4 linked regions of the Homo sapiens genome follow. The protein of the gene in region 1 interacts with the protein of each later gene in a biochemical or structural test. Each region holds a gene or a part of one and is shown in the gene's direction. Other genes may lie near its edges. The genes, in order: FOXA2, OTX2, GSC and LHX1.

Region 1 (7,262 bases):
TACTAACATCGTATTTATTTAATTCATTTTATTTTCTCATTTTAAAAATGTATGTTTCATCTTTTCCTGTGGATCTTGCGGTGGAGAGATAAATTGCATGCAGGTGCACACAGTATTAAACTTAAAATGTTGCACCTTGCCTCCCCCTTTATCAGCATTTTCCTGAGCCTTTGCTGAAGGCTGCAACATGCTGAATTTTTTTATTCTTTTACATAAATACCCTCTGATAAGGTGTTCTTAGCTAATGACCTTTTCAATTGCCCTCTCCGTAAACAACTGGTCTTTTGACCATCCAAGAACTTTGAAAGCCAACATAAGTGTTTGAAGGTGTGCTCAGTGCCAAGTAGACAAATTTTGATGGTCTAATTTTTTTTTTTTTTTTTTTTTTGAGATTGAGTTTTGCTCTTGTTGCCCAGGCTGGAGTGCAATGGTGCGATCTCAGCTTACTGCAACCTCTGCCTCCCGGGTTCAAGCGATTCTCCTGCCTCAGCCCCCGAAGTAGCTGGGATTATAGGCATGGGCCACCACATCCTGTTAATTTCGTATTTTTAATAAAGATGGGTTTTCACCATGTTTGTCAGGCTGGTCTTGAACTCCTGACCTAAGGTGATCCGCCCGCCCCGGCCTCCCAAAGTGCTGGGATTACAGGCATGAGCCATTGCGCCTGGCTGATTTTTCAGTACATTTCAGAAATAATAACCCACCCAAAGAAAGTGAAATGTTGATTATAATCTTTGACACACGATATGCCTTTTCTTCATTGAGACTTGAGATTCATCCAGAGAATGAATAAGGGGTGTTTGGACATCTGCTTTTTTACCAATTAAAAAGTTTATAAGAAAGTAAAAATGCATACTTTCCCAAGACTGTGCTGTCACTTTTCCATCCCCTCTGCCTTCATCTTGCCTACATATCTGCCTTATGTTGCCCTAAACACGCTGGGGAACTTTGAGCAAGGCCTTGCCTGGGTATTTATTCTCTGAAAGGTTTTAGGAATTGGAGTATTAATGGGACTTTTATTGTTTTTCTCCTTAGGTATTTCATGGGTTCTCACTTAGGAAAATTGAGTTCTGTTCAATGATGCCCCTTCTGCACTGGTTGGTTTCATGTGACAAAGAGAGCTCTAGGGAGGACTTTTGCTAGGGGAACGCAGATTGTTCCAGCAAGATGAAGGCCTAGGAGACCTGGATGGCCTGGGTGTTTTCTTCCCAGGGAGAGCAGAGGAGGCCTGGATTTGAACTCGAGTCTTATGACTTTGCCATTGAGGCAACATCCAAAATAAAAATAGCATGCTAACCCCAAGCACAGTCCTCAGTTATAAAGCAGCTTTATTATAGAAGCCGGCGGTGACCTAACAAAATGGAAAGGGAAGGGCTCTGTAGGTCTCGGCCCTACATGAGGGTAGACTAAAGAGGGATTGGGAGAAACATCTGCAGCCCGAGGTCCCCGCGAACTTTTTCCTGGAGAGAAACTCCGGGAGCAATCTTCAGCATTCAAGCCTGAGCCAGAACTCTGGATAGCCCTTTAGAAATCAGAACTCCGGGAAGGAGGAGCTCCAAAGACCGCTGAGCTGGAAGGGAACGCGAACCCCAGGCTGTCTGAACGTCCCTGCTTCCTTCGCAGCCCGTTGGTGTCCCGCTCCCAGCTACCTAAAGCTAACCGTAGACCCCGCTCGCATTCCCATGGGCAGGCGTGCCGGGAGGGTGCGGGAGCGGCTGCTCCGAGACTCTAGGAGGCGTCATCCAGCCCTACCCTACCGGAGCTCCCAGAACCTCGCCAGGGTGCAGGAGGCCGTTTTGGGTTCGCGCAGAACCTAGGGGTTGGGGCTCCAAAAAGGCCGAGTCCCCCCGAAGGCGTTTTCGGAGAGACTGGGAGAGCGGGGGAGAAGGTGCTCCGGTGCCGGAGCTGCGGGGTTGGGATCGCGGGGGTAAATGAGGACTCGGGTCGGTCCCGCGGGCCTGGCGGCCGACAGGGGGCGCCCTGTCACTGTGGAAGCCCCCGCCGAGCGCTCTCTGGTGTCCCTGACCCCGGCCACCAATAGTGCTGTGGTGGAGGTGGGGGCTTCCAAAGTCCGCTCCTTGGAAGTGTAGCGCCCCCTTCTCCTGCGGCCCTCCAGCTCGCTCCTTCTGTTCCTGGAATAATTTCTGGGACCAAATTTCCACCCAGGAGCAAAATAGAAAGGGAAGTGGGCACCCACATAAGCTCACAAATACTCTCATACAGCACACGCACAGACTAGGTCAACCATAACATTCTTTTGAGTTTTGGGGGTGCGGTGTGTGTGTGTGTGCGTGTGTGTCTGCCCAGGCCTGCGGAGAAAGCTTTGAAAAATTGCTCATTCTTTGAGCTCCAATGCTTACTCCTCTTTCCCTGCCCTCGGTGGAGTGATGAAGTTGCTCCCATCCACGCGCTAGGTGGGACCCCGTGGGAAATGCTGGGGATCTAGCCCCTCTGACTCCGCTGCGCACACCTCCACGTTCACTACGTAGCCGTACACACCATCAAGCTCCTTCCCTGGCGCACCGGGCTGGCCTGCCCCTCGTGGGAGCCTTCAGCACTCGGGGGACCGATAGGCACGGCTTCCGCGGAGATACAGACCTTGAATTTGTGGGAGAATCCCGCCCTGGCGCTCACTCGGCGGGCTTATTAATGCCCTCTTTATGAAGTGTCCAAACCATCTGCATTTCAGCAGCAAAAGATGCTGCCGGCGGCTTCCTTCTGTGTCCCAAACCGTGCAGACCTGAGAGTCCTGGGGTTAGGGAAGTGGTTCCCCTGTGCCTACTGCTACCTCCTCGCTTGCCTTCCAGCCTCACCCTTACTCAAGCTTCAATGCGAAGCTCCGTGTCTGCCATCTCGCCTGTCTTCTGCCACCATCGCCCCCAATTTTGGACAGGTGGGCTGGATGCCCACTAGTTCCTATGCATTCTCTGTGTCTGAGGGGGTGGGTACAGGGCTGGATCCCCAAGGTCCAGCCAGGTTTTCAGAACCAAGAAAGAGCCTCCACATCCAAACACCTGCAATATCCCCCCACTCCAAATCTGGGCTCACAGGCTAACCCAGAACAGAAGACAATTTTTGAACCCAAGAGCTGCTGGGGAAATAAAAGTATACGATTGCTGGAGTTTCTAATTTCTATTAAGCAGTCCCTCTGGAAGACAGAGAGGACAGAGACGCTCTTGAAGTCAACTCCATATGCCCCATCATTGATTCCTGGATTCTTCTCTCCTCACCCCTCCCTCCCCACCTCCTGCCCTGTTTGTTTTAGTTACGAAATGCTGTGGGCACCTCGGTTGTGACTGAAAAGTAACCTTGAAACACGCCGGCCTGAATATCAGAGACAAATCTCAGCCTCCCAACCGTCGGCCGCTGCTAGAGGGGCTGCTTGCGCCAGGCGCCGGCCGCCCCACTGCGGGTCCCTGGCGGCCGGTGTCTGAGGAGTCGGAGAGCCGAGGCGGCCAGACCGTGCGCCCCGCGCTTCTCCCGAGGCCGTTCCGGGTCTGAACTGTAACAGGGAGGGGCCTCGCAGGAGCAGCAGCGGGCGAGTTAAAGGTGTGTACGTAGTTTTTCTAAATAGGACAGCGCTTTGCAAATTGGCTGTCATGGACTTGCTGTTTTGACAGAGAATGAGCACTGAGAGCGAAGAAACCCGGCATAAATAAATCCGGCTTTCATAGGGATCTGCCGGGCACTGAGGCTGGACGCGCCCTCCGACAGGCGCACCGGGCGCCCGGCGCGATGAGACGGGGCGGGGGCTGGAGGCCGGAGCCGCCCCAGAGGGTGGTTTCCTCCCAGGTCCCTCCTTCCTCAGGGGACTCGCTGTGGACCCGGGAGGAAAGGGGGCTCGACCAGGGATCCCGCGTGCCCGATCGCCCGCCCAGCCCGCTCCCCTGGCCCGCCCAGGAGTGCGGGGCGCCGCGGCGGTGGGGCGGACGGCAGGCGCTGAGGGGCAGGTGCGGAGCGCCGGCTGCGGCTACCTCTCACCTAGGTGTGAGCTGATTATTCAAATGGGCTGCCCCGGGTCTGGGGATTGGAGGCCCGCGCCAGCGCGCCGCGCTATATCACCAGCCTCCCACGTCACTGCGGCACTTGTCCGCTCCGCGGTCCACACCTCCTCCTCCTCCTCCTCCTCCTCCTCCTCCTCCTCCTCCTCCACCACCACCACCGCCTCCTCCTCCTCCTTCCTCCTCCTCCTCCCCACCCCCCCACTAGCCCCCGCGCCGCGCGCTTCCCGCCGCCTCGGGGCAGCTCGGCACTGCCAACCTCAGCCGCCACCCGGCAGCCCGTGAGCGCGGCGGCGGCGGGTGCTCCCTACCGCGGGGCGCTGGCCTGGGCCTCCTCCGCTCCTCGCCCCCCCCCACCTCCCGCCCACTTCCAACTACCGCCTCCGGCCTGCCCAGGGAGAGAGAGGGAGTGGAGCCCAGGGAGAGGGAGCGCGAGAGAGGGAGGGAGGAGGGGACGGTGCTTTGGCTGACTTTTTTTTAAAAGAGGGTGGGGGTGGGGGGTGATTGCTGGTCGTTTGTTGTGGCTGTTAAATTTTAAACTGCCATGCACTCGGCTTCCAGTATGCTGGGAGCGGTGAAGATGGAAGGGCACGAGCCGTCCGACTGGAGCAGCTACTATGCAGAGCCCGAGGTAAGCGCTCGTCTTTTCCAGGGGGAAGTGGAGCGGCGGCGCTCGCTCCTTCCCCAACCTCAGGACCGCTTCCCTCGCTGGCACCCCCCCACCCCGCCCCACAACCCCAGCCTTTCTGGGCAGCCGCCTTTTCCGCCCTCCTTGGAATCAAATGGGTCTCTTTTTTATACGACACACTGTTAGCCTTGAGATAATATTAACTTTGTGATCAAATATTGACTTGCGGCGCCTCCAAATCCTCTTCGTGGCCGAGCCACGCACTATCCTAACAGAGTTATGTTTGGCAGCGCGCGGCTGGGGAGGGGTGGGAGGTCGGCCGGCGAGGGGGTGGGGAGCTGAGGAGGAGAAGATGGGTAGGAGTTGGGGGCTGAAGTGGAGGCAGAGTCAAAGACTAGTGGACAAAGAGAAAGAAAGTTTTTGCCTGCAAAGCTCAGCCGCGTGTGGTTCAGGTCTCGGTTCTTTCCCTATTGCCCCGTTCAGTGCCTCCAGCCGCCCCCGCACTCCGCACAGGCACTGCCTTGCAGTTTCCCTGGGACAAGGGAGGGGGTCCCTGGAGGGAGACCGGACAGAGGGGGCCCGGGACAGTCTTCGCTGGAGGCAGCCCGAGGCGCCCCGCGCGTTGTCCCGCAGGTTGCTTGCTGCGACCGGAGGTGGCGTCCGGGGACTTCGGGCCTCGGCGCCAGCTCAGTATGCTGGTGGGAGAGTTTGGGGAGACTCTGGGGTAGGGGAATGTATTTGGGGTGCTGGCTTGGGAGTACTCCATGGGACCCCTGTTCTAGAATCTGGGCGAGGTGGAGAAGGGCTAGGAACGGGCCACATGCCCAAGCAGCAATCCGCTCGCCACCTTCCCAAGGGCGATCGATCATGACTCTCCCTGAATGAAACAGACTCGGAGTCCGGAGACTGGGCCATCGGGGACGAAAGGGCTCCCCGGAGGCCTCCCCGGACGCGGAGGCCTGGGCGGTGGGTGGGAGGTCTGGGCACCCTCCAGCCGCGGTGCTAACGCTGTCGCCTCCCTCCCGGGGCTCTGTCCGCAGGGCTACTCCTCCGTGAGCAACATGAACGCCGGCCTGGGGATGAACGGCATGAACACGTACATGAGCATGTCGGCGGCCGCCATGGGCAGCGGCTCGGGCAACATGAGCGCGGGCTCCATGAACATGTCGTCGTACGTGGGCGCTGGCATGAGCCCGTCCCTGGCGGGGATGTCCCCCGGCGCGGGCGCCATGGCGGGCATGGGCGGCTCGGCCGGGGCGGCCGGCGTGGCGGGCATGGGGCCGCACTTGAGTCCCAGCCTGAGCCCGCTCGGGGGGCAGGCGGCCGGGGCCATGGGCGGCCTGGCCCCCTACGCCAACATGAACTCCATGAGCCCCATGTACGGGCAGGCGGGCCTGAGCCGCGCCCGCGACCCCAAGACCTACAGGCGCAGCTACACGCACGCAAAGCCGCCCTACTCGTACATCTCGCTCATCACCATGGCCATCCAGCAGAGCCCCAACAAGATGCTGACGCTGAGCGAGATCTACCAGTGGATCATGGACCTCTTCCCCTTCTACCGGCAGAACCAGCAGCGCTGGCAGAACTCCATCCGCCACTCGCTCTCCTTCAACGACTGTTTCCTGAAGGTGCCCCGCTCGCCCGACAAGCCCGGCAAGGGCTCCTTCTGGACCCTGCACCCTGACTCGGGCAACATGTTCGAGAACGGCTGCTACCTGCGCCGCCAGAAGCGCTTCAAGTGCGAGAAGCAGCTGGCGCTGAAGGAGGCCGCAGGCGCCGCCGGCAGCGGCAAGAAGGCGGCCGCCGGAGCCCAGGCCTCACAGGCTCAACTCGGGGAGGCCGCCGGGCCGGCCTCCGAGACTCCGGCGGGCACCGAGTCGCCTCACTCGAGCGCCTCCCCGTGCCAGGAGCACAAGCGAGGGGGCCTGGGAGAGCTGAAGGGGACGCCGGCTGCGGCGCTGAGCCCCCCAGAGCCGGCGCCCTCTCCCGGGCAGCAGCAGCAGGCCGCGGCCCACCTGCTGGGCCCGCCCCACCACCCGGGCCTGCCGCCTGAGGCCCACCTGAAGCCGGAACACCACTACGCCTTCAACCACCCGTTCTCCATCAACAACCTCATGTCCTCGGAGCAGCAGCACCACCACAGCCACCACCACCACCAACCCCACAAAATGGACCTCAAGGCCTACGAACAGGTGATGCACTACCCCGGCTACGGTTCCCCCATGCCTGGCAGCTTGGCCATGGGCCCGGTCACGAACAAAACGGGCCTGGACGCCTCGCCCCTGGCCGCAGATACCTCCTACTACCAGGGGGTGTACTCCCGGCCCATTATGAACTCCTCTTAAGAAGACGACGGCTTCAGGCCCGGCTAACTCTGGCACCCCGGATCGAGGACAAGTGAGAGAGCAAGTGGGGGTCGAGACTTTGGGGAGACGGTGTTGCAGAGACGCAAGGGAGAAGAAATCCATAACACCCCCACCCCAACACCCCCAAGACAGCAGTCTTCTTCACCCGCTGCAGCCGTTCCGTCCCAAACAGAGGGCCACACAGATACCCCACGTTCTATATAAGGAGGAAAACGGGAAAGAATATAAAGTTAAAAAAAAGCCTCCGGTTTCCACTACTGTGTAGAC
Region 2 (7,122 bases), on another chromosome or scaffold:
TCTCGCACTTGTCACACAATCTTAATCCGTTTCATTCCGGAACAACATGGTCCTCTTTTCCTCTTTTTCGCATTTGGAGTTTGCCTCCCTACTCTTTTATCGAGACAGCCCAATCCTATCTTTGAAGTTGTTTCTTTCTCCCTTACCCTCTTTTTTGAGGCAACCGCAATGCAGGGAGTGAGAGACCCAAGCTTAATTTATAAGTGATCTGTTGCCTTATTTTTTCCCCTAAATTTTGTCTGCATTTCCAGTCTTAAATCCTTGTTAAAAAAATTAAGGTTAATCTCCTCAAAGTTTATAATAAAGATATATCTAAAAACCTAATGAAAAAATGACTTCTTTCTAGGTATTATGGTGCTTCTAAGGCAAAATGTAGTCCCTCACTGTCCAGTGAATTGCTGAAAAGATTGGAAATTAATGTTCATATTTCTGAATTCAGTGTTAAGGAAGTCTAACTGGCTCCTTTCCCCCAAAAGGCTATGTTCTCACGGAATATGGGTTTTGTTCTTCTTTTTTAATTAGCCTGGAAGAATCCCGGGATGTCTTCTCTCCCCTCCCCCTCCCCCACTCCCCCCACCAAAGTTAATAAACTTGGAGGAAAGTTTGGAATATTTTAAACTGGCCTGGCTTGTGCGGTGGAGAAATTGAGCCTAGTTAGTGCCACACATGAATCTTGATTTCAAAATATGCATATTAGACATATTCTAGAAACTGCACACAAGCTCTGACAAATAATTTGATTCCCTTCGTATTGGCTTTCTTAATTTAGCTTCTGAATGCTTATATCTCATATGCGTAGCAAAATAATTGTACAAGTGGCAATTAAAAACCATCCACTTTTTAATGAAAATTATTTAAAAACACAAAGCATGCTACCATAAGTCAGATTCATAGAAAAAAAATGTTAACGACACAGGACACAGAAAAAAAGTTAAACACAGAAATACAATGAACAGATACTAGGTAAATTGGAAGTTCAAGAACTTACTGAAAATCAAGAGTTAGACTTTTCATCCAAAGAGTCTTTTTCTCCCACCAAGCATCTAAGGTTTTCAGTAAAAGAGCCCAGCCCCCTTCCCCCAAAGCCAGTGGCTTTTGTCCTGACCTAGAATAGGGTTTGTGGGGACTGTACCTGAGCCGGGCAGTCTGCAATTTCCAAATTGACAAGAAGAGACTGGAAGATAAAGAGCATGTTCTTACAGGTGAAGAGCAATTTTGCAACTTTTCAAGGCGACACCCAGGAGAAAGCTTGCCTGCTACCAACTGCTGCAGAGTCTGGGCAGAATTCCTCTAGAAAGAAAAAGAAAGTCTTTCACCCCCCCCCCCCTTCCTTGTCTGCCTCTCTCTGTCTCTAGTTCTCTTTCTCCTCTCTGTCTCTCTCTCTCAGATCCAATCTTTTAAGAGCTTCAGCACATTGCTAAGCTAAAGGGAAATTCTCTTTGATAAAGCGGTGTTTCCAGCTTCTGGGTTTTAAAACCTAAATCTATATTCAAATCTGGCTGAAGGTGTGTTCTGGGATTTATGAAAGCCTCTTAAAGGGGTAAATTTACCAAACCGTGACAAAATCATCACAATCTTACTTTAGACATCTGAAGTGGATGAGAATTTTAAAGAGACCCTTGTTTATTTAACACTGTCCATTTCCAACTCGTAGTTTATTGGCCCTGTATTTCTGCGAAGTTATTAGACTAGAGGGCAAAGGAGAAGCGGGAGCTGTCTGCTGCCGGCCGCTGGAAGGGCAAAACCCTCTCACGCCCCACCATGCATAAATCTGCCCCTGTCGAATAGAACAGGGGGATTTTTAGGGAGATTCAGCTGCCCCCGCCATCTGGGAGGACATCGCAAACCTCTACATCGGGCTTGAAAGGTTACCCTGGACACTGGACCCTACGGCAGATGGATCTCCCAGTCCAAAATGGTTTACTTGGTTTAGCTCACAAGCGCATGTTCTGATCATTCTCCATCCCACCCCATGCCCACTGTCCCCAAGGCCTTCCTCCGGCCTTCCCCTCTGCCAGATTCACAACGTCCATTTTTCTTTTTCGGCTCTTTTATGCTTTAAACATCATTGTGATCAAACTGGGGGAAACGTTGTCTTTTCTAGGGGTAGGAAGGAGACTCTGCTTCAGGTGATCGAGGTGGATTTGCCTTTCCTTCATCGAAAGCATCATGACTCTGACCAAGCGCACCCAACCAGTGCCTCCGACAGCCAGCGCCACGAGGGTCATAACGCCCGGGGCATTTGTTACCCCCTCCTCACCACCATCCCCATTAAAGGCTTCGGGGGCGGCCGCCAGGTGTTTCAGTACAGTGGGGGTGGGGTGAGAAAAAAGGTCGGTACTCACCCTCCCCCCCGCCCGGGCCCCTAGAAACTCTTGACTCCTGGGAACGCGACAGCCAGCGGGTCTCCGGACTGGAGCTGCTGCAGAGGGCCGGGAAGGAGCTGGGCGGGCTCCGGGCCCCTCGGGGGCTCGAGGGGCCGCCAGGGCCCAAAGCTCTAGGGACACCTGTGACAGGGGCCGCTGCCGCGGAGTCCCCAGCCCCAGGCCGAGCCCGAGCCGGAGCCCGGCTGCCGAGAGCTTGCTGCCTCGTGCGCACTCCCGTAATTCGTTAATTGCTGTAAATCCCAAGGACGGCCACATTTGAGTACACATACAGTATAAGAACCGACAACAAAGCGACGAATTAATTACCAACTTCATTAACATAGGTCCCCAAATTAAAGGCAGCGAGCTGTTTCTTTGGGCCCACTGGCCGTGGTGGTGATGGTAGTTGGTGGTGGGTGGGTGGCGGGGGGTGGGGTATTTAGGAAGAGATTTTATTTTTCTTTTCCTGCACTGGGTGTTGTGAAGCAAGAGCTGTCTTCTGCTCCCACCCCCACCCAGCTTATTCACACACACTCACCAGTTCCACTAGCCACCCCCCACCCCACACTCCGCCCAGTCTGTTTTTGCTTTTCTAGGGACTCGGATCCGTTTGAAACCTGTCCGGTCCCTGCTTTCTATGCCAGGCAAAAAAGTTGGGCTGGGGGTCGCACTCTCCGGCTCGGGCCCCCAGGTCCCATCACTTCCCAGCCTCTGGGCTCGCAGCCCGGGGCTCGGGCGGCGCCAGCCCAGGTAGCTCCAGGCCTCGCAGTGTCGGTCGTTTGGTGGCGTTTGTTCTAACACAGAAACTGTTTCCAACGGGGGCCTCCCTCGTTCGCTCTCTTCCACGATATCTTGTCGACCTCACACTCGCATCCTCGAGGCCCGATGTGGTCCCAGCTACTTCTCCTAAATGGGCCCTGAGATTAGATTCCGGGGTTCGTGTTCCCTGCAGTCTGTCGTGGGCTTCTCAATTCCAAAAAACCCCAGGAACCTACCAGAAGCCGGGGTCTCTCACTCGGGGATCATTTATTTATATGTGTAAGGATATTTATAAGGGCGTAGGGAATAGAGAAGACACTGAGTTTTAGAAAATAGTTTGTTCTTGGACTTGTGTATCTTTCTCTCTCTGTTTTCCCTACATGCCCACATCGCACTCCCAGGCCTCCCTCCTTTACCCTTTCTGGCCGTCAGCGTGCTCTGGCCCTGTCTGAGACGGCATAGTGGTGTTTTTGAGTTTCAGTCTGACTTGCTTTCTGCCTGTCATCCACACACTTATTGCTGGGGTTGAATGTGATAACCCAGTCACTCCCTAACCCGCCATTCTCCAGCATTTACTTAAATATTTTTATCTTCCATCTTACATTGCATGGGTTTCCTTTCTTCCCTTCCCTAAAAACAACAACAACAAAAAAAAAAAAAAAAAAAAGAGAGGAAAGGAAATTTCGGAGTAAAGGAAGCAGGGGAAAAGAGGGTAAGAGAAGAACTCCCTGTCCATCATTTTAATTATACAATTAGTTCACATGCTCCGGCCCATAATGTATATTTTAAGCAAAGCCCAGTGTCTTTAAAGAACATTCTGGTAATGTCGGAGGCCTGGATTTGTTGCCTGCTCGTCCCCCCGTGCAGCAGCGGCCTGTTTTCCTCCCCCTGTTGTGTGTTTTTATTATTTTCCCTCTGGCTTAGATGTGTCAATCATTCTCTCCCTGCCATTGGTTGGAGAGTTTGCGTCAAAAAGTTGCCAGAGAGGCGCTTTCTCAGCAAATCTCCCTGAGAGCGGGACCGGCCTCAGCTCCAACACAGCCTCCACTGTGATTAAAAATAAAAATTGCTAGAGCAGCCCTCACTCGCCACATCTACTTTGTATGTATTGCAGAGGGGCCCACGCGTGTTTAGAACTCTAGCCGCCTTCCTCATTTTCGTTCTTTAAAAAAAATTTTTTTTGGTTGTGTTTGACTTTTCATGGAAGGGTGAAGACTGCAAGGTTTCTAACTCAATACTCTTGATTTCTTTTAGGATAGCTGGCTATTTGGAATTTAAAGGATATTTGACTTTTTCTAACCTCCCATGAGGCTGTAAGGTAAGTGTCCGTCTGTCTTGTCTATATCCATATCTACGTGTCCCCGTGTCTGTCGGCCATCACCCCAGTACCTCCAATAGACCGACCGATGCCCCTCTGCGAACGTGGAGTTCTGTAGGCGGATGTATTTTTTCTCTTACAAATTTTGAGGTGTAATAACGATCGTTGCAAAAAGAAAAATGTGATCTAGAGATGAGAGCGGTAGTGGGAGAGAGGCAGAGAGCGTGCTCCTGGGGGTCGTCGCTTCTGCAAAACGTCGTCGAAACGCTGCGAATGTAATCTGGGGTGTTTTGGAAGGTTTTGTTTGTGGTTTTGTTTTTATGTCAACGCCGTTCTGGGCTTCTCCCGCGATCTTTGCGTTTTGGCCCCCAGATTTGGTTGGGGTCGTTTGGATGGATCCCAGGGACCTTTTTAGAGTCCGAGACAAAAAGATGCAGATGTAACTAGATGGATGGATTGAAACAACAATAATAAAAAGCCAGGCGCCTCCTTGGGCCCGCGCGCCGGAAGCTCGGTTCGCTTGCGGGTCGGCCTGGGCCGGGGGCCGCCGCTCGAGCCCCTGTCGGCCCCTGTTGAACGTGAGCGGAAACCGGAGCGGATAACCGAGGAGGCTGGGAGCGCTGGCTTCTCGTCCGCCCCGGCGCTCACTGCTCGCTCTCTTTGGCCTCCTCTCCCTCAGCCTAGCACAGCTCGGTTGTCTGTTTCTCCCAAAAGCTTCCAGATCTCCTTTTTGTTTTTAAATATCCACCACCCCCCAAAATCCAAACCACCCTGGGTTGTAATTACGCAGCCTCCCAACCCCCGGTTGTCGTGGTCCCCGACCCTGGTCACCAGGCCGAGCGAACGTGAAGAGTGTTTTTTCAACATGACTTTGCCGGGTCGCGGCCCGCCCCACGTAGCCCTCCGCGCGCACCTGGGGCGGGCAGAAGTGGCAGCTAGTGGCCCCTGCTCCGCCCAAGGCCGCGGCCGGGCCAGGGACCGGAATCCTCCCGCTGGGACCGCGGCCCCTCAGCTGTTCTCTGGCGGGGAGAGGCAGGGCTCGCCCGCGCGCTCGCGCACCCCCTTCCCAGGCTCCAGGACAATGAGGTGTCGTGGCTCGGGGCCGGGCGGGGGCCGAGGGGTTCGCCGAGGCCCAGCCTGTGCCATGGATCGGCCCAGTAAGAACCATCCGAAGGTCCCTGCCAGCGCCGGGCGCGGGCGACGGGTCGCTCTGCAAACTCCCAAGAAGTCTTCGCGTTGTTGCGTTCAAGTGACTCTTGAAATCGATGCCCGATTTCGGGACATATTTTTGGAAACCCAAGTCCCCTGTCAGGATTCCACCGAGTTGGCTTTTGCTTCCTTCACAGATAGAACTGGTGCGCGGGGAGCGAAGGCCGAGCGGCGCCGACCCTGCGGTGGTGGATTGCTTGGGGAGGGGACGGGGAAGTCGCTCCTAGAAATTCTCCCCTCCATCCTAGAGCTTCGGGGTCAGGATTTCTCCTGCTCAGCTCGGGACTTTTTACAGGCACCAAAAGTTATTAGCAACAGAGGGGAGTAGGAGAGGGAACTCCTCCCCCCAGAGTAAGGTAGACACCCAGACCTCAGCGCTAACACCGGGGCTTTCTCCCAACGATAATTAATAGTCAAGGCCAACCCTTTTGGCACGTTTCTTCCTCCCTCCCTCGCGGGTGGCAGAGTTATTTGATTCCCCGAGGCCAGAAACTTTCACTCGAGTTCGCCGGAGAGAGGCCAGCGCCGGCCGTTTTCCGCGGTGCCCACACGTCTCCTTTTTCTTTCTTTCCTCCTCTTCGTCGTCTTCCCAGCCGCAGGCCAGTCGCCAGTCCGCGTAGTTTTGTTTCCTTTCCATCATGCAGAAAATTAATCAGCCCGGACGAGAAGCAGAGAGGAGCATGGCGGCCTGTAATTAAGGGACGTGTGCCCCTCGGATTATCTCGTTAGTTTATCAAGAAAACATTTATTATAATTAATTCTCGGACGAGGTAATTATTGTTGAGCGAGGACACAGCAACTGGTAGATGGGCTTCTTGGAAGAAAAAAAAAACAAGGCGTGGGGGAGGGAGAAGCGACAGATTGCACGAATTGACCGTTAGATATAAGGCTGCGCGGGGGGCGCGGGCAGTGGAGCGGGACCTCGGGCGCCAGGCCTGCGGGGCTGCGGGGCTGCGGGGCTGCGGGGCTGCGGGGCTGCCGGGCAGGAACGCGGGACCCAGGCACTCGCGCCCGGAGGTGCGGTCGCCGACCGGCTGCCGGAACTCGCCGCGCGACCGCGGTCAGCTTCTAGGTATGAGTTCTCCAGAGGCCACCTCGTGAGCAGTCATAGTGAGGCGTGGATTTTTCAAAAGTTATTTCTTTTCCCCGTTCTGGACCCTGCTTCGAGAGGAAAAGAGCTTTGAAAGTTAGATTGAAGGGCCCATGCCTTCTATGCAGAGTGCATACCTAGGCCGGTTGTGGAGAGAATCTCTTAGTTTTGGGTTTTGGTTTTCCTCTTTTCCTTTTAAAGGTGGATCCAGGAGCAAAAGTGAAAATAGTCTATTTTGAGAATTTTAGCCATTTTGCAATGGTAAGGGCAAAGGAGCCCCTGGAAGGATCTCGGCCCTGGTGCTTTCTGTGTGTTACTGGCTTTTTATGTTGGAATGTGCTACTTTATTGTATGATGTGTCAGGCATTTCTAATTGGGTG
Region 3 (6,741 bases), on another chromosome or scaffold:
CCCCGGAAAGTCCAAGCTATTTATTTATTTATTTATTTATTTATTTATTTTTCTAAGGCCTTGGGAACACGTCATTTTTCGATAGCCCCTTCTTCTCTTCTCTTCTCTTCTCGTCTCTTCTCTTCTGTTGAGCTTCCCTAACACCTTGATTATTTCGTCCTTAGGGGATCGGGTGCTTTTATTTGGAGCGTTGGAAAACTTCTAGCAAAAAATCAGCTAGAAAGCTCCCTTACGCCCTCCGCTCCGAAAGCAGGAGACCCAGCTCTAATGCGCGCTGCCCCTTAGCCAGGAGGCATTTGCGCCTCTGGCTCTACTCCACCCACCCAACCTCACACGGACAATCCCCTGGGGCTACCGGAGATGTCCTCCAGAAAGCAGCAGAGCCATGGAACGGGGTTTGAGCACTTAGCTTTGAGACTGGATTTTTTAAAAGTCCCAATACAAACAACACAACCATTCCGCTCAGTGAGGACGGCTGAGGTCTCGGCGCAGCACGCGGGCTGCAGGGGGCTCTGCGCATTGCTCCTAATTCCTCTGACCCCGCTAATGCGCCCTCCGATGAGGGCTCCGTACCTTGAAAAGGACACACCGGCTTTTTGCACATGACACGAAAAATCCGACTTAAACGCATCCGATTGTGAACTCTGCTCTGTGGCCGGGCAGGAGACGGAGAGAATTAAGAAAGTTCCTGAAACGAACCGTAAGAAGTTGGGGTCGAAGATGCATTATTTTTTTACAGTTATGCGGAATGGGGTGTAAGGATAGTGGGGCGACAGTTTTCTCCCTGACAAAAATACCTTGGGGCGGGAGAAGATACTCACACGCATACTCCAAAGTTGGACACTGTTTTAAATCAGAGAAGCAATTTAATCTACACTCTATGAATCAATTTAGTGATGACCGCAGTGCAAAAGCGCCGTGACAGATGCCGAACGGCAAATAGACCTTATGCATGTGGAATCCGCTGAGCTATTCTTTAATATCTTAAAAATGAGGACTATTACTGGGGCGAGTGACTCCTCAACAAACACATTTTCATAGACTTCTGCGTGGTGATTGCTTTGTGTGAAATCGTGTTTGGGTGATAATAGGGAAAATCAGCGGCATGTTTACTGCATTTCCGACCTAAGCGCTCGCCGGCTGCCTCTGGACGCTCGCGGTCCTCCCATGCTGAGCTGTGCGTGCGGGGCCGACAAACAATCGCTTAGCAACACGAGGTGGACAATTTGCGTGCGTCGCATTTGTTATTCCAATTGCGCCAGGCGATGCGGGGCCCTGATGGTTTGTTTAGCACGTTGAGGACACTTGTGAGTTTCCGCCCGCCGAGGCGCAGTGCGAGCACCGAGCGCCGACTGCCTTTCCCGGGGCCTGCCTCCGCGCGGCTGCAGATTGAAGGGGCAACCCGATGGGGGAGGTCCCGCCGCGCAGGGGTGAGCTCCCCTAGAGCTCCGGCAGAGTGTCTGGAGCTGTGTGGCCTTGGGGTTCCTGTGACCCCCTTCCCGGAAAGTCCCCTCTGCGGCAGCACTCGCTTTTCCTTATTTTAGACCCAGCTGATGTAGGAACCCTGTCCTTGTCTGGGGGCGGAGGTGGGGACAGCACACTCCTTTGTCTCAATGAAAAATAAACAAGAAAATGCCCCCAAGTTCATCCCCAACCTCCTTGGCGAACGGATGACAATTACCAAGTCTCATTAAATGTTAGGGTTGCAAAGGGACCCAATGAATGTTGGTGTTGGTTTGATCAACTAAAATCCTGAGGCCTCCAGAGAAGGGATGATTTGCAAGGTGGCAAGGTTGGGTCTGCAACTCTGACGCTCAGATTCTGTACAGGGCTCAGCTGGTACAGCGGAGGGCTGCAGGAAAGCACAGGCGCAGTATAGCAGTTTGCTAAACCTGGTTATTAAAAAGAACAATGTTCCAGGTGGAAGGGGAGACGGAGGGGTGTGTGGAGGTGGTTGTCTGATACTTTTAAAAACATGGAGACACTTTTTTTAGGTCTGCGGTTGAAATCTTGACACTCTCCTGATTTGGCATCTTTGCAAGAACAGGACGAGGAATCTGCCCCAAGCGTCAGGTGGCACTTGTGCCTCTGCCCGGCTCAGACAAAGGTCTTAAAAGATCCACTCACACGCGCACCGCAGCGCACACCCAGCCTCCAACACAAACGCAGGCAGTCACTGATAAGTTGCAGCCTCTAGTTGTCGTCCATCAACTGCCCTGTAGCTTTAAACCTGGGAAAGATTGGTGGGGGAGTATCTGCCCTGGAGCATGGTGACTTAAGTCTCTGAGAACGGAACAACAATAAAAAAGACTTCATCCTAGTCAGTGGGAGATGGAAGGTGCCTCACTTCTTACCCTAGACCTGACCTCTCTAAGGGGAGGGTCACACTCCCTCTTTGTTTTTATTGTTAAAAAAGAAAAAAAGGAAAACTCTATTCACTTCCCCAAATTGAGACCCATCTCCGTCATGTCCTAATCCCCATTTACAACCACCTCTAGTTTGCGCAGCACTGGAAGGAGCAACTCTCAGGCCACAAGCTGGTGGCCGTGAGGACACAGAGGTCCACGCTGGGAGGCCTAGGAGGAGAAACGTCGCCGCCTGGCTCCACTGGGCCGCTTCTGCGCGCCGCCACAGTAGTGCCCTCGGACAGGACTAAACCTCCGTGCAATGGCTCTTTGAAACCCGAACAGAAATTGACAAGTGGGCTTTCCCCTTTGCCCCTGAGCCGGGGAGTGGGCAGCCCACTTACTTAGCCTTACGGCGGCGACTTCAGACAACTTTGCGGGGTCCCTTGGTTAATTAGCCTGAGAGAAATCGCGAAAAATAGGTGTGAGTTAAAGGCGGACTTCCTTCAGGAAACCCGAGGTCTCCCGCAACCCCATCTCCCTCTCCGGCTCTCGGGGGTATCGCCTGGGTCGGGTACTGCCCCTTCCCCTGGAGTGGCCTGAGTTGCAAGCCGGGAGCTTGCACCCGGTCCACAGGATCTGGGGGACTGCTTTTGTTCCGCGCGTACCGTCGCCTACCTTCTCGAAGGGCGCTCGGCCGCCTGCTTGCCGTGAGTGGTGGGCTGGCTGCGCCTCCCGTGGCTCGGGCAGGCTGGCCGTGCCATGCCGAGAATCCCGCAAATCATCGCGGCCGCCTGCCGCTATCAGACCCGGCCATCGTCCAGGCCACTGCGGCCCAGGGAATCCACTCTGGGCCTGCCAGGCGGAAGGGCAGGCCTACCGGCAGCCAGCAGGTCGTAAGGAAAAATGCGACCCAATTATTGGGGAAGAAGATAGGGAAGTCCCAAAGACCCCATCTGGATTGAAAATCAAAAAAATAGTTTGGGAGAGAAGGCACCACATTTCCAAAACTAATTTTTTAAAAGCACAAAAACTACCGACACCCACGCTGGGAGCAGCTAGAAGCACCGCTTCAGACTGCAACTCTTGGTGGCGAATTTTAAAGAGCGGCTGAATTTGGTCTTCGCTGTGTAGGACCTAGGGACTGCCATGGTAGTTTTCAGACCCAGAGTGGCTGGAAAAAAAAATCTTTTTAAGAAGCACGATGCACCCCTCCTTTAGTCGTTTTTGCCTTTACAAAATTTGGATTTTACAAAACCAAAAGTTTTTTGGGGGGGTTAACAAGTTCCATTCGGGAGAGAAACTCAAGATTTAAAAAAGAGGTAAATCAGGCGGTGAGTACGTGGGGGCGCGGAGGAGTGGTGGAATTTTCAATCCTGCTTGAGAGGGGATGCAGCCCCTCACATTTTCTAAAACAAAACCAATTCCGAAAGGGGGAAAAAAGTAGCCCCAAAGTAAAATCGTCCACAATGAATTTGAGCTACAGGCAGAGGAAATCGCACCCAATAATAGGACCCAATCTGAGAAAAAAGGGTGGGGGTGGAGAGCTCGGGCGGAGGGAGTTGTTAACTGCGGCGGCACAAAGGAATTAATGAGATTAACCAAGGCAATTAGGCCGCCCGCCCAGCTCGGCCGGCCCGCGGCCCGGCTGCCGAATGGAAAAGATTAGGTTAATTTCATTAATTCGCAATCCACAATCTCTTTTCAGGCCTTGTAACCCCCTCCCCTTGGCACCTCTCCCCCTCCCCCCAACCCTCTTCCCCCACCCAAAGGAAAAGAAAGGGCCAAATCTGGTTCTGTTTGTCATCTGCATATTACCAGGAACTAAATCCAGGATGACGTCGACTCAGTATAAAACCAACAAGAGGTTCAGCTGGTCTGAGCTCCGTCCTACCCGCGGGTTGAGTTCAGCGAACGCTGCGGCTAGGGGAGGGCGGGAGGAGGGAGAGCGGACGCAGGGGGCGGGGAGGGGCGCAGGGCTGCGCGCTCGCCGGCGCTCTCTTTCGGTTTGGTCGGCGGCTGGAGGAGAGTGGACCCCCCCACTTTAAGGCTCTGTCCTCGGCGCGTTCCCGCCGCCCCCCGGTCCCGACGCGGGGCTCGGGGATGCCCGCCAGCATGTTCAGCATCGACAACATCCTAGCCGCCCGGCCGCGCTGCAAGGACTCGGTGTTGCCGGTGGCGCACAGCGCGGCGGCTCCCGTCGTCTTCCCGGCCCTGCACGGGGACTCGCTCTACGGCGCCAGCGGCGGCGCCTCCTCGGACTATGGCGCCTTCTACCCGCGCCCCGTGGCCCCCGGCGGCGCGGGCCTCCCGGCCGCGGTCAGCGGCTCCCGCCTCGGCTACAACAACTACTTCTACGGGCAGCTGCACGTGCAGGCGGCGCCCGTGGGCCCGGCCTGCTGCGGGGCCGTGCCGCCGCTGGGCGCCCAGCAGTGCTCCTGCGTCCCGACGCCCCCAGGTAGGGTCGCGCTCGCTCCGGCCTCTGCCGCCCACTGCGGTCCTTAGCCCATGGAGCCGGTTGGTTAATTCACCTTCCTCAAACTTTGCTCCTCTTGCAACTCCCCCCTCCGCTTTTGCCGATCGGGCGCAGGAGTTTGCAAACTTCTTGCTGCAAACTTTTGGCCAGAGTTCGCGAAAACTGGAATTCAGTGCCTGCCCGGGGAAACTGGGTTTTGTTTTGTTTTGTTTTGTTTTGAATTCTCTTACTGGCTTTGGCGGGTGTGCGGATGGATGCTCTAACACGCCTCCTCCTTTTCCCTGCACCCCTGATTCCCGTGCACCCCCAATTCTCAGCATCCCCTTGCAGACGACTTCTAAGTGGAAGAGGGTCGGGGGCTGGCGGGCGTGCATGCGTGCGGTGGCGAGGGCGGGCGGCTGACCGTGCGCCCCACTCTGTCGCAGGCTACGAGGGCCCCGGTTCGGTGCTGGTGTCCCCGGTACCGCACCAGATGCTGCCCTACATGAACGTGGGCACGCTGTCGCGCACCGAGCTGCAGCTTCTCAACCAGCTGCACTGTCGGCGGAAGCGGCGGCACCGCACCATCTTCACTGACGAGCAGCTCGAAGCTCTCGAGAACCTCTTCCAGGAGACCAAGTACCCGGACGTGGGCACGCGCGAGCAGCTGGCCCGGAAAGTGCACCTCCGCGAGGAGAAAGTGGAGGTAGGCGCCGGGGCCTGCCGTGGGCGCCTAGCGGTCCTTCCCCGCGAGGTGGGGCCCCAGTCGGGTTTGCCCAGCCCTGCTTGGCTCTCCCCGCACTTTAAAAACATCCCGATGGCGGCCCGCAGGCTGCTGGAGGGCGCTTTAGGCCCAGGAAGTTGAATGAAAACGCGGAAGCGGGAGCGAGCGGCTCCCCTCCTTTTGTTGGCCTGCGCGGGGTGTCCCGCCGCCACACCAAGCTCCCCGGGTGCCCCGGGACTGGGGGAAGCGCGCCTTTGATCTGAACTGTTTTGTCCTCCGTTGCGCAACAGGTCTGGTTTAAGAACCGCCGCGCCAAATGGAGGCGGCAGAAGCGGTCCTCATCAGAGGAGTCGGAGAACGCGGAGAAGTGGAACAAGACGTCGTCGTCGAAGGCGTCACCGGAGAAGAGGGAAGAGGAAGGTAAAAGCGATTTGGACTCGGACAGCTGACGGCCGCGGGACACTTGCCCGTATTACTTACCTAACTCGAAGGACTTGCACAGACAGACGATGCTACTTTCTTGCACACGCGCTGCCTTGCGGGAGGGGGTCGAGAAAGAGGAACGAGGAGCTGTAAATAGTGTACAGAGCCGGGAGGGTCGGCGTCTGGGGTCAGGGCGCGCACAGCCCAGCAGCCCGAGGCCGCCCGCGACTAGCCCCCACCGTAGTATTTATAGTTAAATTAAGGGTGACAGTACAATAAAGTGATGGCGATGTAGACGGGCCACATTCTGTATTTCATACCCCCCGCCCCACCCACCCACCACCATCAGTCTGGAGCCAAGAAAAGAAGTCTATGTAGTCCGTAACCTCCGGAGGAAAAAACTGAGCAGCTATGATCTACCTAAACAAACAAACAAACAAGAAATGAAGCTCTGGGTAACAGTCACAGCATGGGTGTCCTGGTTTAAAAGGAAACCTTATGTCTAGGAAGGTTTGGAGAGTAGCATTGCTGGGCCAGAGCCGGGAGGAGGTACCATTGCAGTTGAGAGGGGCAGCCTGGGTCCCTGACTCCCCTCTGCCGAGGGCAGAAGGAGCACTTCTTCCCTCACTGATGAGGTGGGAGCTAGGGGAGTCCGGGAGCTCCCACGGAGCCCACTGCTCCAAGCTGCTCAGCCCTGCTTCTGAGAAACCTAAGGCGGCGGGTCCACGGGGGAATTAGGCAGCGGGCATGCCACCTCCCCCAGCGCTTTCCTGGAACTTCCACAGATGCTCCAG
Region 4 (7,111 bases), on another chromosome or scaffold:
TGTCACTCTTTTCTGCTCCTTGGGCTGTTCTGGAACCGAAGAGAGAGGAGGGAAATGGCTAGGGGCGGCCATCATCCTCGGGATCAATAGCAGCCGAGAGTGACTGGGCAGGCTCTGTCCATGGGCCGAGCGTCATTCTGGAACCTGGAGGGGGCGGGGGCGGGGGAAGGAAGGGAAGTGGAAGTTTGAGAGGGGCACCTTCAGGCTCCCCAAACTGCATGGCAGCTGGAGAGAGCTGACAGAACCCTCTCCAACCCGGGTTCTGACCAGGGTCCCTCTGGGGCTGATCGTCAAGGAGCTTCTCAAGAAAAGAAACCTGGACTGTGAAAGTCACCTCCTAGGCCCTCTGGGGCCGTATCCGGGGGTGCCTGGGAGGAGGGTGGAAAGGATTCTGCAGTCACCGAGCTATGGGCGAAAATGATCCCCGCGGACCCTGGTCCAGAATGTACAGGTCCTGGGCGGTGTAAGTGGCTGTGGGTCTGTGGAGGACATTGGGTAGGAAAACGCTTGCGTAGTTGAGGATGCAGACAATAAATGTGGCCGGGAAGGTGAGGAGGGAAGGTTGGTGCTCTTCGCTGAACGGAACTGGCTTAAATGCAGAGCTGAGCTGAGCGGCTTCGGAGAAGGCGAATTTAGAAAGCCTGGTCAATTTTCTCTCCATGTCCCTGCGACCGATTATGTTTTAAAACAAAAGCTCAATGGAAACGAAAACAAAACAAAACCCACCATTTGTCTAATGTGCTGTCCCCGTGGAGGAGTTAAATCTGGACTCCAAACCTAGAATCTGGAGCCAAGAGGCGCACTTTGAGTTGCGCTCCTGGCCCCCCTTGCAGAGACGCCAGGGTTGGCTCCTGCGGACCTGTTTACTGAGCCATCTGGACACCAGGACGAGCGGAGCCTGACGCCCTAGAGCGAGCGTCCTGTCCTCATCCTCAACTCTCCTGCCTCGCTGGTCCGTCTGTGGGGAGGGGCCTTCTTTCCCCTATACCTAGGTCCCAAGGTTCTTACACCCCTAAATGGATGGAGCAACCTCCTCCTGCCCACCAGAGGGAGGTGACAGGCCCTGGGTTGGGGAAGGGCCGACAGCTAGGTCCAGCTGTCGTCCGGTAGGTCCCACTGACCGCCCCACACTCCACCGTGACCCCTCTGCTTTGCATGAGAAGGAGCCCAGCTGGGACGGGGGCGGAGGCAAGCCACCCGGGACTGGGGCCACTATAGATTCCAGAAAGGGGCGGTTGGGTCGAGGGCGCTGGCGGCGAGAACCGGGACAGCTGCGGGGAGGGGAGGAGTGTGAGGACAGCAGGGCTGGACTGGCCCCCTCCCCGCAGGCCTCACGCAGCGCAGCAGGCTGGGAGGCGCCTGGGGGTCCGGGTGGAAGAAGTGGGGACCCCATGCCACACGGCTTTTGGCGCTTGCGGGGGTGCCAGAAGCCTACCGAGTACCGGTCGTCTTCCGCCGGGAAGTGCCGGGTCCGCAGGAGGAGCGCGAAGCCGAGTCCGAGCCCGCGGAGCCCGCCCCCTAGATCGCAGAACCGCCTTCTCCATCCTCTGCCCTGCCCCGCGTCGGGGTCTGGGAGCGACCGGCGGAGGCCGGCGGCGCGCCGGAGCTGACTAGTCCCCTACGCTCCTCCGGCCCGCAGCGGGGAGCCCACATGTGTATGTGCAAGAAGGTGTGGAGAAGGCGTTAGGGTCCCGGCACCCACGGGTCAGGGCAGAACGCCAACGAGTCGCACTGCGGGTCTCCGCGGCTTCGGTTTCCATGACATGGTGACGCCGGCGGCAAGGCGGGGGGCTGCCTGTGGGCCTTGAGGTTGCTGGGCGGTGCGGGCGGAGTCAGCAAAGGGGCGTTGGCAAAGCCCTAAAACCCCACGGTTCCACGGAGCGCAAGCCAGATTCTCTGAAGCAGCTTCCCCGTTCGTCCGAAGAGGGTATTCCATCTGCACAGCGGGATTCCCTGCCAGCCCAGGTTCACTGCGACTCCGCTTCCCCGAGCATTTCCCCCGTTTCAGCTTCCGTCTGGTCTGCGCATCGCGAGTGGGGTCCAAAGGCCAATTCCACAATACCAGCCAGCTCCGGAGGGACGCCCACTATCACTGCCTTCCATGCTCGGGCCAAATGAGCCTTCCTAGCACCCCCTCCCCCGAAGCACAAAAACGGGGAGCAAAAGTGGGACCGCCCAGCCCAACCACCTTCAGACTCCACTTCAGGAGAAATCCTGGTTAAGCCCACCCAGAACAGGTGTGGTCGAAACGGAATTTAGGGTTTGACTTGAGTGCTCCGAAAAACTACAGTAACTCTTCCAGGCGAAGGCACTCTAGACCAGGATCTGTCCCCCACGTGTGGGAAAATAGGCCCCTGGGGGCGGCGGTCCCGAGTTCCTAGCCAGAGCGGGATTAGGGAGTTACGGGTTCCCTGAGGAGTGAACTATGGAGGGTGTGGTTTGCTGTTGTCTGGGGAAGCCGGTGCCAACCCGAAGCCTGGACAGGGGAGGACTGGAATCCCGGCACACGCTGCCCATGCACTGCACGCCCATCTACTGCAGCCTCTTCGTGGCGTCCCGGCACCCCCCCCTCCTCCTTCCCTCTTCCCAACGCCACGACCACCACCCCCAGCCGCCGCTGGAGCCCCCGGTTTCCCGCCTAGTCGTTTGTTTTTGTACGTAAAAGGTGTCTCCGGATCACAGTTTTCTCACAACTTTCTCGCCAGGGTTGCAACTCCTCACCCGAGGCGCTTCCCGGTCCACTCCTTCCCCCGCGCCGGCGCCGCGCCTCCGGTCTCCCCGCCCCCATCAGGAAACCGCCCGAATCAACTTTGCAAGAGTGCTCTGCGGGAGACAGACACTCAGCTCGCCCAGGACCCGGACCCTGTGGACTTTGGATGGATTGGGGGAGGGGGCACAGAAAGAGGGACGGGAGGAGGGAGATTCTGCTGCTAAGAGCCTCCTCCCCCTCCAAAGATGTGCGCTGCGCTTGGGACAAACTTCCAGCTCAAGAAAGTACGGGGGGACAATGGCAACAGCCGCTGAATTGCAAAGCCCAGCAGTGCAGGGGAGCCGCCTGGGATTCCGGACCCGGCTGCACCCCAACCTTCCACAAGGCTCGGTCTTGGACTACCCCCACTCTACAGCAGAACTCTGGCCTCCGCCTGCGCCTATTCCCGCTCTCTCTCTGTCCCTCCCATCGAAACCCACGCCTTACCGGAGCAGGAGGGGGCCCAGGCACGGTGCTGCCCGCCGTCCGCGCCGCGCGGGGCCGCGGGTGCCGCCGCCACTGATCCTCTAAACGCGGTCTCCCCGCACTCTCCCGGGCCGGGGGATGCAGAATGGTTTACAGAGGGACCGCGAGGCGCTGATTGGTCGCAGGCCGCAGTGACGTCAGCGGGCGCTGCATTAAGGCGAGGGGGCTTCCAGAGCTCAGCCAACAGCCAGGAGCAGTGACCAAGCCGCCGGAGCTGGGGAGAGACGCACCGGGGCGGCGACTGGGCCAGGAGACCAGGGACTGAGGGACGCGCCCGGGGAGGGCCAGCAACGAGCCGCGGCCCGGGCGGCGACAGCGGCGGTCCGCGCCGAGCCGTTCCAGCCGCCGGCCTACTGTAGCCGCTGCGCCAGGACATTTTTTTTTAAAGCTCTCCAAGCTGCCCCCCTCCTCCCCGACTCCTCCCGCTGCAAAAGAAAAACAAAAAAAAAAAAAGGAAGGAGGCTAGAAAGGAAACCCAGATTTGCCACCACAACGAAAAAAAGAAGGGGAAAAGGAAAAGGAGAGAAAGTCGAGCGACTGTGGGGTTAGACGGAGGCAGACAGAGCGTGGGCCGAGCGATGCGGGGCTGTGCGCCCAGGCGGCCGCGAGTTGTGACTGGAGCCACGATGCACGGCCAGGCGCGGTGAGAAGCCAGCCCGTAGTGCCTCCCGAAGGAGCCCGGGCGCAGGGAGGGTCGCCCTGAGGACACGGAGGCCGCCAGGCAGGCCAAGGGCCGAGGTGACTGGGCTGGGGCGGTAGGGAAGGAGCGAGTGCGCCTGGCTGCCTCCGCACGGAGTTGTCCCTCTCTGTTTTCGATTGACACAAACACTTCTCCAAAAGCGGGGAAACCTAAGCAACAACAGCAATCAACACCAAGATCTTCCTCCTACCCTCCCCTCTTTCCCTTCTCCCGCGGTCGGCCCTCGCCCCCTCCCCCAGGCCCAGCGCGGGCGCTCGGCGCGTCCAGACCCGCGGCGCGATGCCGGCAGTTTAGGATCCAAAGCTTCTCTGCTCCTTTTGTTCTTTCCTTCCCTTTTTTAAAAAAAGAGGGGGGAAATCCCAGTGGTGGGCAGCCTGGCACGCACACAGTCGCCCTCATACCCCGACAAAAGCAGATGCACTTTGACTTCTGACAGCTCTACCTCAAGCCCCGGAGAACTCAGCGGCGCTTTCCTCGCAACCCGAGCTCGGCGAGTCGTCGTCTTCTTCTTCTCCGTTTTTATTTATTTATTTCCGTTCCCGCCGCCGTTCTCGCTGACCTTCACTCCTCCGCGGGCTCTGAGCAGAAGGGTCGCATTCTCTCCCGCCTGAGACTTCTTTTCCTCGCCCCGGGAGCTCAGGCGGCGCCGCTCCAGCCCGGGGCCCCGGGACTCCCCGGCTGCACACTTCACTGAGACGCCCCCCCAGGCCCCGATCAGCCTCGTTTCCTCCACCCTACTTTGATTTCCTGGTGCGAGTTTTGGCTTGCACGGCCGAGTGTGTGTCCTCTTTTTGGAGAGACTGGGGAGCTCGTGCCGATTGTCTTCAGGAGTCATCCCCTGGGCTCTACTTTGCCCCTCTCTCTCTCTGGGCCTCATCAGACCAAACCAAAGACCATGGTTCACTGTGCCGGCTGCAAAAGGCCCATCCTGGACCGCTTTCTCTTGAACGTGCTGGACAGGGCCTGGCACGTCAAGTGCGTCCAGTGCTGTGAATGTAAATGCAACCTGACCGAGAAGTGCTTCTCCAGGGAAGGCAAACTCTACTGCAAGAACGACTTCTTCCGGTGAGTACTTTCCTCCCACGCCTCTGCTGCTACCTCCCCGCGGGCCCTTCCCGGCCAGCTTCGGATCAGAGGTTAGCGTGGCCTCGCTGCCCAGTTAGGAACTGCTTCTAGAGAGGGCAGCCAAGTCCCGCGGGCGCCCGCCTCTCCGCCAGCTGGCGCGCTGGGAGCCCGGGACGCGGCCCTGCTTGCATCCTGGAAACTATGGGTCTGGGTTTGGCTGCATGTGCCTGGGAAGAAAGGGTCTGAGCCTGACTCGGCCCAGAAGCCCCTTCAAGCTTGGAAGAGACAGGGCAGCCTCGGGCGTTGTAGCCCGGACTGCTGTCTTTCCCGGAGCCAAGCTCTGCAGCAACTGCATTCTCCAGGCCTTCGGGGTTGTTTGCCCTCCAGGCAGAGCCCAGGCTCCCTCCCGGCCACTACCTTTTCCGACCCCGAGCGGTCTTGGCGGTAAGCTCCGAGCCTTTTGCGTAGAGTGTCTGGGCCAACTGCCCTGTCAGCGGCAGGAAAGAACTCGGCCTTAAAGCCGATCCTGCACGCCCGGGGGTCTTCCCCAAACCCGGACATGCCTCCGAGTGCAGACCTGGACAAACTGCTGCACTGTAGCCTGCGAAGTGCCCGGAGCTTTTTCCTGCTTCCCTGGCTGCCGAAGTTGTCTGGTGGTTCGGCTTCAGCCCCAGGTGACTCCGACTCCCACGGGCTCCGCTCAGTAGTCCTCCTAGGAAACTGCCAGCCACAGCCAGCAACCTCCTTGATGAAACCTGGGGGAAAGCCGAGACCTCCAGCTTGCTGGTGGGGAGACTTCTCCCTACCCCCCTTATTCGTTTAGCATTTTAATTATATTATCGTACACTCACAATTTTGCCGCTCCATTCACACAAACACACAAGTCAACAGAGAAGAACGGGCACAAATGCGAATTGTAATTCCACCCTACGGATGTGAAATATCGCAATTTACTCGGCTGACTTGGTCTCTGCTTTTCTGAGTTTGTGGTCATAGTTCAAACCAGGGAGCAGGAGGAAGAGGGATTCAAAGCCACTCAGAGGGCCAAGACGCGCTGTCCCCAGTGCCGCTCCAGGACTCGTGGCTGGGGTTGGGTTGCGTGGAACCATGAAGCAAAGCTCCGTGCTCGCTGGTATTTCGGGAGAACGCGCAGGCTGAGCCTCTGAGCCTCCGCGGGCTGCCCGGTTTTCCTCAAGGACTGGATCATAGCGGGAGGGTGGCAAACCGTACTCGTACCCGCTGCCAGTGGGTCCCTGAGCCTGGCTTCCACAACCCGCGGCAGAGCGCCCAGAGCCAGCTCCCGCAGCTCCCGCTTTTGCCAACCTGTCCCGCTTTAGGCAAGAGCGTGGCGGCGGCCCCGCTAAGGCTACGGAGGGGGGCTCTCCGCGGCTATGTTTGTTTACCAACAGCGGGGCTAGACATCGCCAACCCCATGCCTATGTGCGGGTCCTTTTGCGATGAAGGAGAGAAAAGCGGCGCTCCGCGCACGTTTATATAGAGTTCTAATTGTAATTCGACTTTTCTGAATCTAATCGGAAAATAAGTGCCCCGTTCCCCCCGCCCACACAGGTCACTGCCTTGCCACCTTCTTTAGACGATGCATCTTTCCTCTGGGATAACGCTGGGAGTGAGGCTGGGGCTTGGCGGGTAGCTTGGGCCCCTGGCTCTAACCGCGTGTATCCCCTCCCTAACTCTTCCCTGGTGCCGCGCTCTCTCTCCTGCTGCCTCCTCACCTGCTTAACCGGAATTCTGCCTCTCTTTATCTCTCTCTTCCCTTCTTTCTGTGCTCCATTCCTCCTCTCCTACTTCCTCCACTTTTTACATCTTCCCTCTTTCTCGCTGTCATCTTTCTCTCCGCCTGTCTCCCCTTGCCCCTGGCTGACCCATCCCCGCCCCCGCCCCCCACCCCCACCCCCCCGCAGGTGTTTCGGTACCAAATGCGCAGGCTGCGCTCAGGGCATCTCCCCTAGCGACCTGGTGCGGAGAGCGCGGAGCAAAGTGTTTCACCTGAACTGCTTCACCTGCATGATGTGTAACAAGCAGCTCTCCACTGGCGAGGAACTCTACATCATCGACGAGAATAAGTTCGTCTGCAAAGAGGATTACCTAAG

What was found.
Region 2: the proteins of FOXA2 (region 1) and OTX2 form a complex in vitro, tested with the Homo sapiens proteins (2 studies listed by BioGRID).
Region 3: the proteins of FOXA2 (region 1) and GSC form a complex in vitro, tested with the Homo sapiens proteins (one study listed by BioGRID).
Region 4: the proteins of FOXA2 (region 1) and LHX1 form a complex in vitro, tested with the Homo sapiens proteins (one study listed by BioGRID).

The regions. Positions count from the first base shown.
Region 1 is NC_000020.11:22,581,562-22,588,823, reverse strand, and holds the start of FOXA2 (hepatocyte nuclear factor 3-beta), read left to right. Parts: upstream 1-4,251; 5' UTR 4,252-4,545; coding exon 4,546-4,632; exon of another isoform or gene 4,633-5,081; intron 5,082-5,669; coding exon 5,670-6,974; 3' UTR 6,975-7,262. UniProt on the Homo sapiens protein: Transcription factor that is involved in embryonic development, establishment of tissue-specific gene expression and regulation of gene expression in differentiated tissues.
Region 2 is NC_000014.9:56,807,480-56,814,601, reverse strand, and holds the start of OTX2 (homeobox protein OTX2), read left to right. Parts: upstream 1-4,122; 5' UTR 4,123-4,226; exon of another isoform or gene 4,227-4,379; 5' UTR 4,380-4,443; intron 4,444-7,122. UniProt on the Homo sapiens protein: Transcription factor probably involved in the development of the brain and the sense organs. Can bind to the bicoid/BCD target sequence (BTS): 5'-TCTAATCCC-3'.
Region 3 is NC_000014.9:94,767,723-94,774,463, reverse strand, and holds GSC (homeobox protein goosecoid), read left to right. Parts: upstream 1-4,350; 5' UTR 4,351-4,448; coding exon 4,449-4,803; intron 4,804-5,246; coding exon 5,247-5,506; intron 5,507-5,814; coding exon 5,815-5,973; 3' UTR 5,974-6,241; downstream 6,242-6,741. UniProt on the Homo sapiens protein: Regulates chordin (CHRD). May play a role in spatial programing within discrete embryonic fields or lineage compartments during organogenesis.
Region 4 is NC_000017.11:36,933,368-36,940,478, forward strand, and holds the start of LHX1 (LIM/homeobox protein Lhx1), read left to right. Parts: upstream 1-4,107; 5' UTR 4,108-4,830; coding exon 4,831-5,000; intron 5,001-6,922; coding exon 6,923-7,111. UniProt on the Homo sapiens protein: Potential transcription factor. May play a role in early mesoderm formation and later in lateral mesoderm differentiation and neurogenesis.